Regions from separate parts of the Homo sapiens genome. Here all the other regions are linked to region 3. Evidence: fine-mapped expression QTL. A gene starts in region 3. Each other region holds a variant in brackets. All regions are shown on one strand. Distances are from middle to middle.

Region 1 (4,235 bases), 180 kb after region 3:
TACTGTTCATCTACTGTCTTACAACTCTGTCCTCGTACTCACCCCAAAAAGTAAGGCAATGACAAAGAGATGGAGTGGAGGGCACTCGAGCAGGAAGCAGAGCCAGAAGCCCTCCCGCTCCAGGGGCCAGGGGGAGGGCGGGGTCAGGAGGGTGAGAAAGCCCAGGAACCCTTCAGACTGGCGGGGTGAGTGCAGCCCCAGCATCCAGACTCAACTCCTCACCCAGGCCCTCCAGGCTGCCCCGCTTTAACGCCTGCTCCTCCCTTCTCCCGCACATGTGTCCCTTCCTGGGGGCTACGCCCTGGTGTTCACATGTCTTTCTTTTTCTCTGTCCTATCTGTCGAGCTTTGCCCAGGATGCTTGGAAGTCTTCATCTTATCATTCCCAGGATCCAGGGAATAATAAGATCCTTATTCCCAGGATCCAGGCATGATGCTGTCTGTGCAGTTCAAGCACAGGTGCATTTTGCATTTACTTTTTGAGGCTTCATATACATGAAGCACTACACTAGGCCATTAGCGCTAACTTAAAGGGGAAGAGAGAATGTGATTGCCACTCTCACGTGGCGCGCTGGAAGGTTCAGGGAGGTGCAGCTGACAAACCAACCAGAGACACTAAGTGCCGCAGGCTGCCCTGCTGGGTGACAGGGCGGCCTGCAGAGGTGGAATGCGCTCTCTGACCCCACAGCCCGCAGGGCCCCAGTTGAGCTCCCAGAGGGCTGCCCGCATCTGTCCCTGTATCTCACGGCGCCCCTCAGGAAGCCCAAGGCAGTGTTCCTGGCATAGATGCGGGGAACCCTCAAGGGTGGGTGCAGTACCTCAGCCTTCCAGGCCCAGGTGCCCCAAGGGCTGGCCTCCTGCAGGGACAATGCTGAGCTGGAGGTCCACACGGCAGGCAGAGGGGTGGCTGGTGTAGCTAAGCCTCCCCAGGAACAAGGAGCCGGGCCTGCTTTCACCTGCTGCTCTCTTTCCTGACAGCTGTGGGAGATGAGTGAGCCGGAGCAGGGCTAGCAGCAAAGGGAAGGCTGCATCAGCCCCCAGCCCAGCCTCTGTGTGGCCTCTGCACGTGCACGCGCACACTACACACACACACACACACAAACACACACCTTGGCAGATGTATCCCTAGAACGTGGCAGAGACTCAGGCTGGAGCCACTTGGTGCAGGGACTCACAACCTCCAAACTCCAGATGCCACCGCTGCTAGGAGCTTATGTCGACTGAGCTTGGACCAATGCTGGTCACAGGATCTTGGACCATGTTCTTGCCTGTTGTACCTCAGAGAAGATCCTTCCCATTCCCTTTCTCCTGTACCCGAGGAAAACCCTAGCCTGCACTTCCCGTCGGGCTTCCTGCTGGGAGCACCTCCAGCCCCCCATTACCCAGCAACAACTTCTCCACGGCCACCCAGGGACACATGTGAACAGGTGATGGAGGCCAGCATGGATTCCCACCCAGCCCCCATGCATGCCTGCTCCTAGGGGTTAGACCCCTGCTTTCCGGAAACTTTCTCTTCCTCGGATATTTGGCAAACTGCCCACCGTGCTTTGAAGTCTTCATCTTATAGATTCTCAGGATCCAGGCACGATGCTATCTGTGCAGTTCAAACACAGCTGCATTTTGCCTTTATTTCTCAGAGCTTAATATACATGAAGCACCAAGCTAGACCATTAGTACTAACTTTACCATTAATGGAAGAGATGGCATGATTCCCACTCTCTCTCAGGTGGTATGTGGGAAGGTTCGGGGAGGCGTGGCCGACAAATGGACCTGAAATATTAAGAGGACAGCACAAGAAAGAGTGTGGCCTGGTGTCCACCATGCTCTTTGGAAGCTCAGTGCCATGGAAGGAGGGGAGGGCCCTTCAGGGCCACGGTGCAGGGAAGTCTGAAAGATTTGAAGGAGGGAGCAACATGGTCCTATGTCAGGAGCTGGTATTAATGCCAGAAATCAAGAGTGTTCTTGATTTAGGAAAAGGAGTACATGGAATTGCCCGGATCACAACGGAGAGGGAGGAGAAGGGAGCTGGCCGTGTCCCCGTCATCACCAGCTGTCATTGGAGGGCAGCTTCCGAGCCCCACTGGTGTCTCAGCTGGGGATGGCAGAAAGCACCCTGCAAGAAGCTGCCAAGCTCTGTCGTTCCTTATGAACCAATTAAACATGATTAAGATTGTGTTCTCATTACCTAAATAATTCATTAACATTTTCAGTAGGAAATTTAGAAAATATAAGTGAGTGAGAATAAAACAGAAATCACGTGTTTTCTCACCCACGGAGACACTGCATCCTTCTAGTCTTTTTTCTACACATAAACATATTTTTGTTAAATTATAATTTGTCAAACGAGG[G/A]TATTGATTCAGGGAAAGTTAATATTAGATAGTGCTGTTGCTGTCCATGTTCAAAGGTGGTCTAGTGACAATGATGACTCTTTGGACTGAAAAGAGTCACCGGGCATGGTGGCTCACGCCTGTAATCCCAGCACTTTGGGAGGCTGAGGCGGGCGGATCACGAGGTCAGGAGTTCAAGAGCAGCCTGGCCAACATGGTGAAACCCTGTCTCTACTAAAAAAAATACAAAAATTATCTGGGCGTGGTGGTGGGCACCTGTAATCCCAGCTACTCAGGAGGCTGAGGCAAAAGAATACTTTGAACCTGGGAGGCGGAAGTTGCAGTGAGCCAAGATCGCACCATTGCACTCCAGCATAGATGACAGAGTGAGACTCCGCCTCAAAAAGAAAAAAAAGAAAAGAAAAGAGTCACCCTGCAGGAACAATGGCCATTATCTGTCACACGGCTTTTGGACTTACCATTTGCCTGGATGTCTTTGTGTGAAGAAAGCCAAGTCCCCTACCCACCACCTCCTCATCCCCCACACAATCATCTCCATGCAGTTTCACCTTCGTCTTCCAATACCGCACATCTGTGACACGCTGCGAGCAGTGCTGCACAGAAGCATATTTTAAAAGCTTCCTATAACTTCCCCGCCTCTTGTTTCTTTGGTTCAAGAACAGTTGACCCATGGGGCAGGAAAGTATATAAAAATATCCCTATGGGCTGGGCACGGTGCCTCACGCCTATAATGCCAGCATTTTGGGAGGCCAAGGCGGGAGGATCACCTGAGGTCAGGAGTTCAAGACCAGCCTGGCCAACATGGTGAATCTCCATCTCTCCTAAAAATACAAAAATTAACCGAGTGTGGTGGTGCATGCCTGTAATCTCAGCTGCTTGGGAGGCTGAGGCAGAAGAATCACTGGAAGCCGGGAGGAAGAGGTTTCAGTGAGTCAAGATCATGCCATTGCACTCCAGCCTGGGTGACAAGAGCAAAACTCCAACTCAAAAAATAAAAATATCCCTGTGCACCCAGAGGGGGCCCCGATCTCAGGGAAAGGTTGATCTTGGGAGAGGCAGGGCATAGATTAAAAACAATTGTCTAATGCACGATTAAATACGTTCATGGGCTTGCACAGTGTAAGAGCTCAAGAGAGACTTAGAAATAACAGAGTACCTCCCTCCCTCTGCCTTGCAGACAGGGAAAGTGGTTCCAAAAACAGGCTTTCGAAGCCCCAACATGTTTGTTTCTGAGCCCTCACATGGCTTCTTAGCAGTCTTTGGGCTTTCTAGCTCAGGTGCATACACATCAGACACATTTTCATTGAGCTCACAGGAAATCACTGCAGCTCACACAGCTTCCTCAAAAAGGCAAAAATCACCGGGAGAAAGTCACAAGGTTTAAGAACTTTCTCAGCCCCAAAGGGTTAATGGAGGCTGGCAATGCAGCATGATCCCACCCGGGCTTGGACAGGAAAAGAACTCAGGAGCTGTTTTTCTTCTCCGAAAGCCAATCCCAGTGGAGGCACTGGGGTTTTTAAAACCAAATGTCTCTACAGCTTGAAATGAACGACTGCGTGACCTCAGCCGTCACACACACATGGCCCCTGCTGTTAAACCCTGAGCAGGGCTGGGCTCAGGGCATCCCGTAAATATTCGACGTCTGTGAGGCACATGTGGGAGGAAGAGCTGCCATCAGAAGTGGTTTCAGCTGGAAGGCCAGAGTCTCTCTCTCTCTCTCTGTGTCTGTCTGTCTCTGAAAGTTACCGTCATCTGTTAGCAATTTCCCCACTCCCATTAAAGCCAGACACTGGATCCATTTGCGTTGCTGCAGACCACCATAAGGGATTCATTTTTATTGCTTGGATGTGAGTCTCTGAACCACATCAATTACAGCCCTTTGTGTTAC
Region 2 (4,235 bases), 140 kb after region 3:
GAGGGCAGGAGGGTCCCTGAGAGATGGCTCAGCCTAGGAGCAGAAGGACCAGGTCTGAGTGAATCTGTCAGGCCTGGGGTGACTCACCACATTTCTCTTCCAGGCCAGACCTCCGCCGCCGGCCTCATCTCTTAGGCCTAGTGGGGCCTCCAGAAGACAGAACCCCACAGCCTCATCTCTTAGGCCTAGTGGGGTCCCCAGAAGACAGGGGCTGACAGGTGGTCCTGCCTTACAGCAGAGGGGACCAGAAGGCCGCTGTGCAAGGGGCTCAGTGATTTTAACCTAAGCCCGTGTGCTTCACTGCTGGGAATCTGTAAATGACGGCTGGGGGGGGTCTGTGCAGGGACATTAGCAACAGAGACAGGGGCCAAGGAGATGTGGGTACATGCACCTGTCAGGGTCACCCAGGACTCCAGAGCCTGAAGGTCCCCAGCACCACCCAGGCTCTCTAAGGTGCACCTGGCCCAGCTCACATTCCCAAGCCAGCCAAGTGACTCAGAACGCCACCCCCCACCACAGCCTCCCCTCGTTGACCACAGCCTCCCCTCGTTGACCACAGCCTCCTGTCTCCACATGACATCGAAACTGTCTCTTCTCTCCCGGACAGGAGGGGAGGAATCTGCACAGACAAGGGCCAGGGTTCAGACAGAAGACAACGCCCACACCAGCCACTTGGATCCGGAAGATTCCTGTACACACTTGCATGGGTGTAAAATTACTAACCTGGTGGCTAAAGAGGTAAACAGGAGCTCTGAGGTGTCACCCCTGAGGCTGAGGAGGCAAAGGGAAAAGGTTGGGATTCTTCAAACGTGGAAACTTGGAGGTAGGGGCTGTGGGCCTGGGCCCCTAACCTTGAAGGAAGGGGTTCCAGCTGTAAAGTGTCTGAAGTGGGTGCAAGGAAGTTGCATTTGCAAGTGCTGGAGAAGCTGCAAAAAGAGTCAGCCTCTGCCACTGAAAGAAGCCGCTGCTGCGGGGGCGGGGGGTGCCCACAGGGAAGAAACAAACTCTAGGGTGTGGGTTTCTGCTCAGGCTGGGCAAGTATCTTTATGAAAGGGACCTGCATAAAGCGTCCATAAAACCTGCCCCTTTGCATCCTCTAAGCCAGCAGGTTCCCCATGCCTCACCCCTCTTTCCTGAACTCCTCTTCACCCCAATCCCCATTCCTAGCACCCCCTAAGGACAGGCTGTGCCCTGACAACCGTCCATCTCTACCCAGCTGAGACCTCTGTCCAGGGCGATGGTTGCAGGACCATGCAGACACGGAAGTTTGCTGAGATCCCACTCCAACTGCCTGCTCTCAGATTCTGAGTATTTCTCTAGCCCCCTCATAAAAACACAGGTCACTTTCACACTGAAAGTAAAAGATCCCTCCTTAAGTCCTTCATCCTGCATCTCCACCACCCGCCAGGCCCTGCCCTGGCAAAAAGTCTCACAGCCTTTTAAGGTGACCCGAGGACCCAACTCTGTCTCTTTCTCTCCTCTCTGTGCTTCAGCTTGTTTCCTGGCCACCAGCAAGGTCCCTCTTTGGTCTGGGAGGTAGGTGTCTGCAGGACACTGGGAGGATTTAAATACAATGATCAGTGTGGGGCCCCGAGAGGGCCTGAGACAGGATTTCCACTGATTGCCAACGTTCAATACGGACCCCTAGGAGACAAGCAGGAACTCCTGTTCTTATCCACACCTCTGCAGAACGGCGGAGACCACTCAGCCATGAGAGTGGCCTCTACCATTTCAGAGAGTAGCCGAGGAGGGAGCCATCCTCAGCCACTGCTGTGTGGTCGGTGGGCCTGGTTTCCACACGTCACAGAGCCTGGCACCAGACCGGCTAAGCATGGGCCTTCGTGGCACAGGCCCAGGAAGCTTCGAGTCCCAAGATTTAATTTTGTTTTCTGGGCCTTTTGAAAGAAAACGTTGTCATCAATGATTGCTCTCTAGCACGTGTCTGAAGAGCGGCCACCAAAAGGAGCCACTGCTGCAGGGGTGTCCACGCGCGCAGGGAAAGAACGGACTCCAGGGGCTGGGT[T/C]TGCTCTTGGAGAATGAGGTCGTCAAAACCTCACTTCGTGGGGAAGTCTGGAAAAGACAGTTTCCTGCTTTGTTCATCGTGGGCAGCAGGAAACGGTGCAGCCTCCAGTGAGAATGATTCCAGGAGGGTGTAATGGGGCGAGGTATGAAGGGGTAGGCAGTGTGGGGAACCACCCACCCGGGCCATGTAGCTGGCACCGTGGTAATTTAAGAGACCTGGAGAGATAGGGGAGGGATGGTCAGGGGACTTGGAAAAGGAGGAAAGAGGTGGGGAGGAGCCCAGCGGGAAGGAGATGCCTCATCACACCCTCCTCCCTCCCAGCCCCACAGGCTCCCACTGGCTGAGCCAGCCAGAGCCAGAGAGCACAAGGTCCCCCACGATGGCCCCCGCCGGTCAGTGTCCTGGGGGAGGAGGGGGTGCACCTGGAGGGGCAACTGGAAGGCACCCAGGACCCCCCAGAACCCCTTGGGCAGCCCCAGCTTGAACTGCAGGGAATCTGCCATTCAAGATGGCTGCTAGAAAATGGCGATTCTACCTCCCAGGTGACTCCAAGGGCTCTTACCCAGAGTCCTGAATAGCCACAGCCCAGCCCAGGAGTCCTAAAAGGAATTCTAGAGTGACCCGGATGGTTGTAAGGGCCTGAGAATGATCTGTGCCGTTCGGCAGAGACCCAAGTGCTCTCGGAGTGACCCAAACCTCAGGGCTGAGAACAGCTCGAGGTTCACCTGGACTTACCCCTGCTCCCCCACAGATCCTCGGTGCACCCTGGGATTTCCACAGCCACGTGGATTTTAAGCCAAATCCAGGATGATCCCATGACACACAGGTCTCAGCTCCCCATGGGGCATTTCTCTCCAAGACCACCTTCCTCCCCAGCTCACCGTCCACGTCTACAGAGCCATGCACCTCCGTGGCAGAGCTGAGTGCACGTGGCACAGAGTCAGGGCTGACATTGAGCAGGGCACCCTTGGTCTCCCCCAAGACCCATCAGAGTGTGCCTGGCACTGCCTTTCAATAAAAAGCCCAGGGTCTGAGCAGGGTGGGGCGTCTCCCCTCCCCCAGCCAGGATGAAGGTCAGAGCTGAATTTGCTCAGTTCAACACCAAAAACAGTCCTGAAGGAAAATGTGTTGAGCTTGGCTGTAAGCCAGGTCGTTAAACATGGATTCTGATCACAGATCGTTTCTGCTAATTAAACAAATATTTTTGCAGAGCTGTCTCGGTTTCCGCTGTTGCCGTTGGCCTAAGTTGCTGGCAAACCATTGGAGCCATGCCCCGAAAGTCAGCTCAGATCAGAGGAGAACACACAGAACTTTTGAAGGAACAGCTAAGACAGGTCTTCCAAACAGAGAGCTCTGTTCAGAGAGAAGGAACAGGCAAGAAAACACCGACACCTCCAGCCCTTACAGTCACCAAGCTGTACTTTCAGATTCCTGCTGACATACACACACACACACACACACACACACACACACACACACTCTCTCTCTCTCTCTCAATCCCTCCCTCTCTCAGAATGCATAGTCCTTCTCCCTGCCTCCATCTCTAAAGCTACACCTGCACACACAAATAAGCATTCTAGCAGTGCAATCACTATTCCAAGTTTGAAGACTCGTGTGTGTGTGTGTGTGTGTGTGTGTGTTTTCCTGCTGAAGTGGAGAGAAAAGGGCCAGACAGGATGGGCCCTGGGTCCCCATGTGACGTACCCCAGCAGGGGTCCTTTGCTCCTTCAAAAATGCAATTATCACAAACTTCCCTCGCCCTGGACCGCGGTTCCAGAGAAACGCCCATGCACATAATGTTTTGGTACAAGTTCAGGGTGTTCGTGAACTTTCTGAAGCCCGCCAAGAGCGCACTGCGAGTTCCAAGTTTAGAATACCAGTCCTGGGGAGTCAGGAAGCGTTTGCAGCCTCTGAACTGTCCGCAGAACTGTCAAGCACCCAAGGCTCGTCCTCTCTCAGCAGCTCCGAAGCCCCCTGGACTGCAAGCACTCAGCACCCAGAGCCTTCCCTGCCATGCCCCAGCCCTGAGGTGTCCTTTCACACTCCGGACCCCCCGGCCTTTCTCAGAAAACGCTCCGTGCTGCGCTGTGTTGTCCCCACTTGTTGCACAAGAGTAGTAGCGACAGCAATGCTGACCAGGCCTGGTTGCACACAGCCCCCTGCCCCAGGTCCAGGGCTGCACCAACACCCCATGCCCGTGGACACATCGGCA
Region 3 (4,235 bases):
GGAGAAAGGAGACTTTATTCTAGTGAACAGTTTGCAAACCAGGGAGACACAGCCTTCGGAGTAAAAGAAAGGTGATTCCAGAGAATAAAGGGGAGGGTTTGGCTTCTATAGAAAAAGTTCTTGTCCAGGTTTCCAATCAGATGTGTTTATGCAAAGGAAAGATTCAGACTTGCTCAGTTCAGATTGGGTAATACAGCTGAACCCTGATTGGATAAAGCAGATGAGTTCTGATCGGTTACATCAGGTGAGCCCTGATTGGTCAATTCGGGTAAATTGTGAAAATCCCAAAGGGGTGTGAGTTTTCTGGACACAGAGTAGTTGTGACCTACTTGGGACCTGACTTGAAGAATTGCTCTTACAGGTTTATTTTTGTTCATAATCTAAACATCTGCATCCTCTGAAGCTCTGTCTTGGTGGAGACCAACTCCCCAAATATTAAGAACATTTCTGTATTCTTACACTCTAACTGCTACAAAGCAGTACTTTCTTCTTTAATTTTTGGGGAGGGATGGGGAAGGTAGAACAGAAGTGGTTCTTGACCAAGGTCAACTTATGTTCAGAGCTGGTTCCTTCCGGTGGGTTCATGGTCTCGCTGACTTCAAGAATGAAGCCATGGACCTTCATGGTGAGTGTTACAGCTCTTAAAGGTGGCACAGACCTAAAGAGTGAGCAGCAGCAAGATTTATTGTAAAGAGTGAAAGAACTAAAGCTTCCACAGTGTGGAAGGGGACCCCAGTGGGTTGCCCTGCTGGCTGGGGTGGCCAGGTTTTATTCCCTTATATGTGCCCTCCCATGTTCCATTTTTGTCCTATCAGAGTGCCCTTTTTTCAATCCTCCCTGTGATTGGCTACTTTTAGGGTCCTGCTGATTGGTGCTTTTTACAGAGCACTGATTGGTGCATTTTACAATCCTCTTGCTAGCTACAGAGCACTGATTGGTGTGTTTTACAATCCTCTTGCCAGACAGAAAAGTTCTCCAAGTCCCCACTCTACCCAGGAAGTCTAGCTGGCTTCACATCTCAATGTTACTCCCTAATTTCTTACTCTTTTTAAAACAAAAACATTTTTCCCTCATGTTATAAAGGTACTGCAAATTCAATATGTCCTTATTTTTAAAAAAATTAAATGCAAAAAATAAAAATAAAAATTTTGAATACCTAAAGTCTACCTAGAGACATTTTAATACATTGACTTTTTAATACATTTAATACATTTTAATACATTATCTTTTTTCTTTGTATAATCTCTTGTAATTCATAACTTTGAATATACTGAATATACCTCTATACTTCATGTTTTTATTTCAAATTACCAGTATACTATTACATACTTCACACTTCATTTTTGTTGGCTGAAAATATTCTTCTCAGTGGATGAGCTATAAATCATTGTTTATTTAGGTTGTTTTAAATGTTTCTATTATAAACAATGTCATTAATAGCTTCATGTTTATATAATTTTATTTTTTAGGATAAATTTCCATAAGTGGAAATATACTGGCAAAAGAGAAGTGTTTTTTTGTTTTTTTTTTTTTGGAGACGGAGTCTCGCTCTGTCACTGGGCTGGAGTGCAGTGGCACGGTCTTGGCTCAATTCAAGCTCCGACTCTCTGGTTCAACTAATTCTCCTGCCTCAGCCTCCTGAGTAGCTGGGATTACAGGCATGCGCCACTCTGCCCAGCTAAGTTTTGTATTTTAGTAGCGACAGGGTTTCACCATGTTGGCCAGGATGGTCTTGATCTCCTGATCTCGTGATCCGCCTGCCTCAGCCTCCCAAAGTGCTGGGATTACAGGCGTGAGCCACAGCGCCCGGTCAGGAGAAGCTATTTTTAAAGACTTTGACACATATAAAGCAATATTTAAAATCAAAGAAAGTGTAATTTGTTTAACAATTTTTTTTTTACTTGAAGCGGTCTTTTATTTTATATTATGTCTTTTGCTGACTTTTACAAGCAAAGGATGAAGTCACTTCATTCTGTTTTGCTAGGGAGAGACTGTGTCATGCTTATTGGAAGACATAAGGGCTCATAATTAGATTTTGCTGGTTCCCTAGAGACAGTCCCGGGAACACACTTGCATAACCTTTGGTAATTGGAAATATATCTCATATTGGCCACGTGCACAATAATTCAGTGTGAATATGGCCAATAAACATGCCTTGTTTACAGGTCATTAGTTTGGACCTCTCTTCTCCTCAAATGCTAAGAAAGATCTGGTGAATTAAAATGCTTCCAGTCCATTTGCCTTGGCCTGTAGTGAAAGTCCTAATGAACAATGAAGGAGGTACCGGGCCTTAGGGACTCAGGGATGCGCTCAGGAGTTAAGGGCAAATTTTCCTAGGTTCTTTCCTAGGCAAGTAGATCCCGGGAGCGGTGGAGGGGCGGGACTCCACGTCTCCTAGGAACCGCTGCGCGCTCACTGATTGGCTGATCGCTGCTCAGCCGCCATTTTCAAATCCCCGGATGACGGCGGTGGCGGCTGCAGTCCGCTGACAGGCGCTTTCTGCCTGGCAGAGGCTGGCGGGCATCGTGCCCGTCCCTGCCGGTCTCCCGGGCACCCGGCCACCGCCCCACCCCCTCCTCCGTGCCATGGAGCCCGAGCTGGCGGCTCAGAAGCAGCCTCGACCGCGGAGGCGAAGCCGCCGGGCCTCTGGGCTCAGCACGGAGGGAGCGACGGGGCCTTCGGCCGACACCTCCGGGTCGGAGCTGGACGGGAGGTGAGTGTGGGGGAGGGGAGGGCCGAACGGGAGGTGAGTGTAGGGGAGCGGAGGGCCGAACGGGAGGTGAGTGTTGGAGAGGCAAGGGCCGGGGGGAGGGGAGGGCTGGCCGGGAGTTGGATGTGGGGGGCGGCGAGTGGGGGTGTTGGTGAGGGCCAGGGGGAGGCGAGGGCCGCTGGGAGGTGAGTGGGGGGTGGGGGAGGTGACCGCGGGGTTGGGGGGGGGGACGGGGGCCGCTGGAAGTGAGGGTGGCACAGGCTGGAGTGACAGTGTGCCTGGCCTTGGACCGAGGTCGGTCCTGAGACCCCAAACTGCGATTTTCCCTGCCTGTGGCAAAGGGGCGGGTTTATTGAGTCTCCTCGCCTCCTGACTGTTTCTCAGGGGAGACTTAGGAAAAACCACAATGGTTTTGTTCTGCACACCCAACTGGCTGTAGGCTGGCGTTCCCAAATGCCTTTGCTCAGACCGAAACTGTCATGGTGAGCACCACGAGAATGGGCTTCCATGTCCTGAGAAAGAAAAGACTAAGGGATAAGTTGACTTCGGGATATGTTATGAGATGCCTATTAGAGAGTTCATCACAACCATTTTCGTGTTTTTTCTTTTTACTTTTTGTGGAAGTATACATTGAAATGAGAGTGTATGACTCGTGTTTGGCTCAGTGAAATTTCACAAAGCGAAGCTCAGGGGATAGCTAGTGAATTAGGAGGAAGGGAACCAAGTGAGAACAGTATCCAGGAGGCCAAATGAAGAAAGAATTTCAAGAAGAGGACGTGGCGAGCTATGTCAGATGTTATTGATAGGTCAAATAAAATGAGGATTAAGTAAAATAAGATGAGGATTAAGCTAGATGAGGAATGAAAATTAAATTTGGTAATGAGAAGAGAGTATTGATCTTAGATGGTTTCCAAGAATGGTTACAATATCGAACTTAGAGTGTTTTGCAACAGGTTGAGAAGAGAATGTGCGATTTGTTCAGAAAATAATGTGAGTGCCAACACTAGGAATATGGAAATGGAAAAATACTCTTGTTACTATTTAAGATTTATAATCTAGTGGGGAAGAAAGATAAGTAGGTTAATAATTATTATAATATGTGATAAAAGTTATTATAGTGATATACACAGAATGCCGTAGATTAAAAGGAACACTTAATCCTGACTGGAGAGAATAGGAAATGATTTCCTATTGTAATCCCTGAGTCTTTAAGGACCAGTTTAGAGAGCAGATGTAAATGGATGATTTCAGGCAGAGAAGCATGTAGAAAGGCCCTGAAGCAAATGAGTCTGATGAGTTCTGGGTATATATTCTATTTTATTACTATATTAACAGTGATATTTGTATAGAGGAGAGGAAACCAATATGGGGAGAAGGAGGAGGTAGTCATGAGAGATGATGCTAAAGAGGTAAGCGCCACATCATGAAGAGACCTTGTATGCCTTGACAGAGTTTGGGTTTTATCTTCATGGTAATGGGGAAATACTGAAAGACTTTAAATGAGCCAATGGCATGACATATTTGC

The links. PIP is the estimated chance that this variant, and not a neighbour inherited with it, causes the effect. A credible set is the group of variants that fine-mapping cannot tell apart.
Region 1: its variant is the best candidate, but not a certain one, in a credible set for the expression of NET1 in whole blood (INTERVAL, PIP 0.70).
Region 2: its variant is the best candidate, but not a certain one, in a credible set for the expression of NET1 in whole blood (INTERVAL, PIP 0.72).

Annotation. Positions count from the first base shown.
Region 1 is chr10:5,590,839-5,595,073 of GRCh38, forward strand. It overlaps LASTR (lncRNA associated with SART3 regulation of splicing), which reads right to left. Exons shown (of 2, transcript NR_134491.1): 2 at 4,146-4,235. Among named protein-coding and RNA genes, the nearest start is that of LASTR, 3.2 kb to the right of the region's middle. The variant G/A (reference allele first, on the strand shown) is at 2,348.
Region 2 is chr10:5,551,307-5,555,541 of GRCh38, forward strand. LOC105376380 (a long non-coding RNA gene) reads right to left here and starts at 771. Exons shown (of 4, transcript XR_930611.3): 1 at 724-771. RefSeq lists enhancers at 2,195-2,718, 2,719-3,241. The variant T/C (reference allele first, on the strand shown) is at 2,024.
Region 3 is chr10:5,410,108-5,414,342 of GRCh38, forward strand. NET1 (neuroepithelial cell transforming 1) reads left to right here and starts at 2,450. Exons shown (of 12, transcript NM_001047160.3): 1 at 2,450-2,713. The coding sequence starts at 2,586. RefSeq lists a silencer at 2,362-2,791.